Homo sapiens: one gene and its partner. The protein of the gene in region 1 interacts with the protein of each later gene in a pairwise test. Each region holds a gene or a part of one and is shown on either strand. Other genes may lie near its edges.

Evidence for each region.
Region 2: the proteins of FAM13B (region 1) and WNK1 interact in a two-hybrid assay, tested with the Homo sapiens proteins (one large-scale study listed by IntAct).

Annotation. Positions count from the first base shown.
Region 1 is NC_000005.10:137,949,580-137,953,079, forward strand, and holds part of FAM13B (protein FAM13B), read right to left. Parts: intron 3,131-3,500; coding exon 3,049-3,130; intron 1-3,048.
Region 2 is NC_000012.12:895,579-899,078, reverse strand, and holds part of WNK1 (serine/threonine-protein kinase WNK1), read right to left. Parts: intron 3,009-3,500; coding exon 2,347-3,008; intron 1,601-2,346; coding exon 1,398-1,600; intron 1-1,397. UniProt on the Homo sapiens protein: Serine/threonine-protein kinase component of the WNK1-SPAK/OSR1 kinase cascade, which acts as a key regulator of blood pressure and regulatory volume increase by promoting ion influx.

The sequences.
Region 1 (3,500 bases):
GACCAGCCTGGTCCACATGGCAAAACCCCGTCTCTACTAAAAATACAAAAGTTAGCCAGGTGTGGTGTCATGTGCCTGTACCTGGTGGCACACACCTGTAATCCCAGCTACTCAGGAGGCTGAGGCAGGAGAATCACTTGAATCCAGAAGGCGGAGGTTGCAGTGAGCCAACATCAGCCAATGCACTCCAGCCTGGGTGAGACAGTGAGACTCTGTCTCAAAAAAAAAAAAAAAAGCTGAGCACTGTGGCACATGCCTGTAAGTCCCAGCTACTTGGGAGGCTGGGGTGGGAAGACCACATTGAGCCTGGGAGGCTCAGGCTGCAGTAAACTGAGACTGCACCACTGCAATGCAGCCTGGGCAACAGAGTCAGACCCTGTCTCAAAAAAACACAAAAACAACAACAAAAAAAGAGAGAACAAGCTATTATTTTTATATCCATAGAGAGCCTATTATTGAATAAAATGCTCTGATGGGCATGGGAGATACAGAAGAAAACAAAACAGACATGGTTCCTGTTCTTGTGGAGCATATATTCAGAGAAGGAAAACAATAACCAAATACTCAGATTAGTAAAATAACTTTAAAGAATGCTATGATCTATAGGTAAAACAGGGTAGAGTCACAGCGCTAAAAGGAGTATAATTTGTGGAGGAACAACTACATTGGACGGGATTGACAAAGAAGACCTCTCTGAATAGTATCATCCTGGTAGAATACGGAATAAGGAGCTTGTCTAGCACAAAGGATTTAGTGGAAGGGCATCTGTCCCCAGTGAGGCAATAGCCAGTGTGAAGGTCCTAAAGCTTGGCAAGTTTGAGGAACAGAAAAGAGATGAAAGTGATAAAATCGGCCAAGGGCAGACTGTGCAAGGCCTTGAAAACCACAGTAAGGAGTTTTGACTTTATTCTAGGTGGAAGCCCACTGAAGGGCTTGAAAAAGAAAGTAGTAAGACTATTTATTTTTCTTTTTGAGACAGGGTCTTGCCCTGTCACCCTGGCTGGAGTACAGTGGCACAAACATGGCTCACTGCAGCCTTGACCTCCTAGGCCTAAGTGGTCCTCCTGCCTCAGCCTCCAGAGTAGCTGGGACCCAGGCTAACATGACTTTTTTAAAGATAATTCTGACTACCATGCAGCAGACGGACTACAGAGCAGTAAAAGTGAAAGAAAATGGGAAAATTAGGAGGCCAATGCTAGACAATTTAATGGTATCAACTACTAATAAAATCAAGGTAATAATTTTCACTGATGACTGGAAATTGGCATTAAACAAGGAAATCTTTAACAGAAGTATAGGGGAAAATTAAGTGATACTCTAAAGAGGAGTTAAGAGACATTATCTTGGCCGGGTGAGGTGGCTCACGCCTGTAATCCCAGCACTGTGGGAGGCCAAGGCAGACAGATGGCTTGAGCCCAGGAGTTTTGAGACCAGCCTGGGCAACATGGTGCAATGCCATCTCTACTAAGAATACAAAAAAATTAGCTGGGCATGGTGGCATGTGCCTGTAGTCCCAGCTACTCGGGATGCTGAGGTGGGAGGATCGCTTCAGCCCGGGAGGTGGAAGCTGCAATGAGCTAAGATCGTGCCACTGCACTCCAGGGCAACAGAGTAAAACCCTGTCTCAAACAAAAAAAAAAAAAAAAAAAAAAAAGGAGAGAGAGAGAGGCAAACATTATCTTAACCACAAGAATATAAACTCCATGACAGCAGGGACTCTGTCTGTCTTGTTCACTGCTATATCCCTAGTTGTCTACAAAGTATTTAGTACCTCAGAAATACTTAACACTTTACTGGGCTGGGCACGGTGGCTCATACTTGTAATCCCCACACTTTGCAAGACCGAGGTGGGAGAACTGCTGAAGGCCAGAAGTTTGAGACCAATCCAGGCACAAAGCAAGACCCCAACTCTATACAAAATTTTAAAAAATTACCTGGGTGTGGCAGTGCATGTCTGTAGTCCTAGCTACTCTTGAGGCTGAGGTGGAAGGATCACTTGAGCTCACCAGTTCAAGGCTGCAGTGAGCCATGACCATGCTACCACACTTCAACCTCGATGACAGAGCAAGATTCTGTCTCAAAAAAATAAAAAATATATATTTTTTTATTTTTATAGGCCAGGTGCAGTGGCTCACACCTATAATCCCAGCACTTTGGGAGGCTGAGGCAGGGGGATCGCTTGAGCCCAAGAGTTCGAGACCAGCCTGGGCAACATGGCAAAACCCCATCCCTACTAAAATTACAAAAATTAGCTGGGCTTGGTGGCGTGCACCTGTAATCCCAGCTACTCGGGAGGCTAAGGCACAAGAATCACTTGAACCCAGGAGGCAGAGGTTGCAGTGAGCTGAGATGGCGTCACTGAATTCCAGCCTGGACAACAGAGTGAGACTCTGTCTCGAAAAAATTAGAAATAAAAATAAAAATAAAAACTTTATTGAGTAAATTTAAACCAAAGTGATGCTCCAGATAATAAACCCCTATTTTGCATAATTTTTAAAGTAATAATTATTAAAACACATACTCACTAAACATCCACAAACTAAATATACTTCAACAATTACTATACTGGTTTGACACCCAGAAATGCAATGCCTAGTTTATCATTCAAGAGTTACAATTTAGTCTTTGTGGTATAAACGAGTCACTGTGATTAGACATTCTTAGTCTTAGATGAAAATACCTACCAAAAAATCTTAATGAAATATCCAACAAAACTCAAAGCTGCTTAATATCTGAAATATATTTTAGATAAACTTTATAACATCAGTTCACTTATTAATATACAATCTCAGGTATCTTTCAAAAAGATATTACTAATAAAAACACAAAAAAGACATTTAAAATATAATACAGAACTACAGTACTGTACTATAACACAGTACTACAGTATGCAATTTTGACCCTAATAAAACAAAAAAAGGTAACTTTTATTTTTGTCAAACAGTGCCCAAGATTTAAAATTATCAAAAGTTGTATTTGTGATTCTCAGACATTAATATAAAAAAATTTTTAAAATGCAAATATATTACAAAATGGCACATAATATACCTTTAATTTGCTTCCGCAGTTTTGTAAGCTCTGTCATCCATTTTAATACCTTTGGATTGGCAGCAATATCACTGTAGGAGGGCTGAAAAATTATGGAGCAGAATCACTGACACTTGTGATAAGCAATAGTTACATTAATTTATGTCCAAATAGTATTTTACAATTCCCACAGCAAAGACTGCTCAATTCTCATTTCATCTTATTTTAATTAGATAGGGCAGGATATTAAGTCAAGTTCTCCCAAGGTAAGGTCTCGTAACTGGCAGAAGCCAGATTTGAATATGGGTCTTCTGACTCCAAGTACAGGACTCTTTCCACTTCATATGTTCTAACTATTAAAATTCTCTTTCCCCTCCTCCACTCCATCCCTCACAAACTCCCTCTCCTCCCCACTTGGTACTTGTAGTTTTTGATAGAGCAGAAATAGCAGTAACATGATTTGTCAATGTAAA
Region 2 (3,500 bases), on another chromosome or scaffold:
TAGAAACTCTCTATCTATCCCAATTAAAATATAGTCCAGGGCCGGGCACGGTGGCTCACGCCTGTAATCCCAGCACTTTGGGAGGCCAAGGTGGGTGGATCACCTGAGCCAGGAGTTTGAGACCAGCCTGGCCAACATAGTGAAACCCCATCTCTACTAAAAATACAAAAATTAGCCAGGCATGGTGACATGTGCCTGTAATCCCAGCTACTATGCGGGGCTGAGGCAGGAGGATCACTTGAAACTGGGAGGCGGAGAATGCAGTGAGCCGAGATCGTGCCACTGCACTCCAGCCTGGGCAACAGAGCGGGATTCTGTCTCAAAAAAAAAATTCAAAGTTAGCAGGGCATGGTAGTGTGTGCCTGTAATCCCAGCTACCCAGGAAGCTAAGGTAGGAGGACCACCTGAGCCTAGGAGTTTGAGGCTGTTGTGTTGTGTGCTATGATCACACCACTGCACTCCAGTCTGGGCAACAGAGTGAGGCCCTGTCTCTTAAAATAAATAAATATATATATATACTACATTACAAAAGAGTATCACTTAACTATTTCTTTGATTTTAATGACTAGCAAGTTCTTCTTTTTTTTTTTTTTTTTGAGACAGAGTCTTGCTCTGTCACCGAGGCTGGAGTGCAGTGGTGCAATCTCAGCTCACTGCAAGCTCCGCCTCCCGGGCTCATGCCATTCTCCTGCCTCAGCCTCCTGAGTAGCTGGGACTATAGGCGCCTGCCACCATGCCCACCTAATTTTTTTATTTTTAGTAGAGACAGGGTTTCACCGTGTTAGTCAGGATGGTCTTGATCTCCTGACCTCGTGATCTGCCTGCCTCAGCCTCCCAAAGTTCTGGGATTACAGGCGTGAGCCACCGTGCCTAACCAATGACTAGCAAGTTCTTTAACCCAATATAAATGAAATAAAAACCTTAATCAAGAAGTTACCACTTAGACATACACACAAATATCTATATGACGATTACATTCATCTAAGTTGCAATTATGACTAAGTCATCCATTAAAACAAAGAATCTACCCAAGTTTTACTAAACAGAGAATAATGTATTTTCTTCCAACTGCCCAAGAGTTTGGTTAAATGTGAGTTATACGAGTTAACAGGCAAAGCTAAATGTCTATCCTTAAGAATAACTATAAATAAAGATTACCAGTAGATAGCAATATGGATTACAATGGAATAAGCCATTGTATTCACTAAGTCTACTTCTATAGACTCAAAAAGAGGTACAATAAATGTAAGTACAGCAGTCAAGGAAGCAAAAATATCAGGAGAGCCAAATTCCTTTGAAATTTAACAAAAACAACAAATGTTCAGCAGGTCACATACAGCTGGAGACAGAAACAAAAGATAGGACAGCTGTGGCTGACCTAGTCCAGGGCTTTTTACCTGAAAGCTGGGGGCTTTTATTCCCCAAGGAACTGCTTCGACTAGATTTGCTGCCTTTGCTTTTAGTGGGTCGTCGTCTTCTCCCTGAAAGGGGAGCAGCTGGGGGAATAATAACAGCAGGGGGCACCTTGCCCAGTTTGGTATACAAAGATTCAATTTCATGCTTCTGGCGACTCTGCAGGTCCTGAATCTCTTTGAGATGTCTGTGAAAGATAACCAAACATAATTCAAAATACCATAATCCTCTTCATTCAGACAAGAATTAACAGCATATTCCTAAACCTGCTTTCAAGTATGTAGTAGTTACTAATGAACCTTTTCCCCAAATGTACTACCACGAGATTCTAGTTTGTCAACTCACCTTGCTGGCCTGCATTACCCAAGCCATGTTCCAACAAGCTCCTAGCCAACAACAAATGGTTGATAATGTTTTAGGAGAAAAACATTTCCTGACTTTTGAGGCCACGCACACAATAGCTGAATTTGCTACTCTGACCCAATCTGCCAAACAAAACGTGCCAAATAATCATACATCCCAGTGCCAGATTCATTTAGTGGACTAATAAATAAAGAGCAGTTAATAGTGATACAATATGCTATTAATAAAAATAATAATACAATACAGTAACAATAATACAGTAATAATATAGTAACAATGAAGAAGTTCTAGAACTAGAAATGCTATGGGTCTGTATGAGTGCAAGAGAAGCTGCCTGTGCCTGTGAGTCAGTGGTTGGGAATCGTGTGTGTGTGTGTGTGTGTGTGTGTGTGTGTGTGTGTGTGTGTGTGTGTGTGGTGGGGAGGTATGGGGTGGGGCTTCTGTGGCACTGTCTCTTTAAAAGAAATGAGACATTAGCATATTGTGGCGAAAAATATTATTAATCTTGGCCCTGGGATCTAGGTCTGAAAACCTTATCTGACATTCTTTCACAAGAGAAAATATACTTACTTATCTCGTAGTCGTCGCAGCTCTAACTTTAAGTCTTCATCTTCGATATCTGACTCATTGTCGCTACTCATGTAAGAGGAGTTAAATGAATTACTAAGGCTTTGACTTAGATTCTGGCTAGGAAGGCTCTTTGAGCTCAGCTGATGGGGCGAGTGTGGACTACCGGAACCATCATCCACATCCCTACTTAAAAAAGCGGCCTCCGGGTCAGAAGACGGCCCATTTAGATGTGAAGGCTCTGACAGTTCAGGCTTCTCTTTCTTTGGTATCACAGCAGGAAGAACAGCTTGTTCCAAATCCATAAAAGGAGGAGATGCCACTGGTCCTTCTTTCTTTGTGTCAGTGATCTTGTCCTCAGTTTTTGATACAGAGAAACGACCCACTTTGTTTGCTGTAGTTGTCACCTGAAAACGTCCAACCTTGGTAGGCTGCCCAGTGTCTGACTTTGCCTCTGAGGCAGTAGTTTTGTGGGCACTCTCTGGCACATCTGAAGAGATACCAGGGATGGTTATGCCATTCGGCTCTGGTTTCACCAAGGTACTCTCTGGACTACTACTTGATAGCACTGAGGACTCTGAGGTGCTGGATTCAAAATGAACAGACTTTGCATCTTCTGACTTATTTTTACCCTCTTTCTGGGCACCGTCTGCTGCAACAGAAACCTGATAAAAAAGGACAAAGATTAAAAACTTAAGTTCTCAATATCCAATTTCTATCACAGACAATTTAAAAAAGGAAAAAAAGAATCACTTTATTTCCCTGTCAAAGAGTAGGCTGATTGTCTCTTTACATAGCGCCTCCACTTTTGACTAGGAAGAAAAATTGAATACCATCATAGAGAACACATGGGTACTGAGATGCAGATTCTGTGTGGCTGGCTACGCTTATAAAGTAAATAATTTACTTTCGTATTTGATGTCATACACAGAATTCAGATTTATGTCTTAGTCAACATATACATAACAAAAGGTCAGGGCCAGGCATAGTGGCTCATGCCTGTAAGCCCACCATTTTGGGAGGCTGAAGCAGGTGGATCACTTGAGGTCAGGAGTTTCAGATCAGCCTGGCCAACGTGGTGAAACCCTGTCTCTACTAAAAATACAAAAATTAGCCAGGCATGGTAGCGTGTGCCTGTAATCCCAGCTACTTGGGAG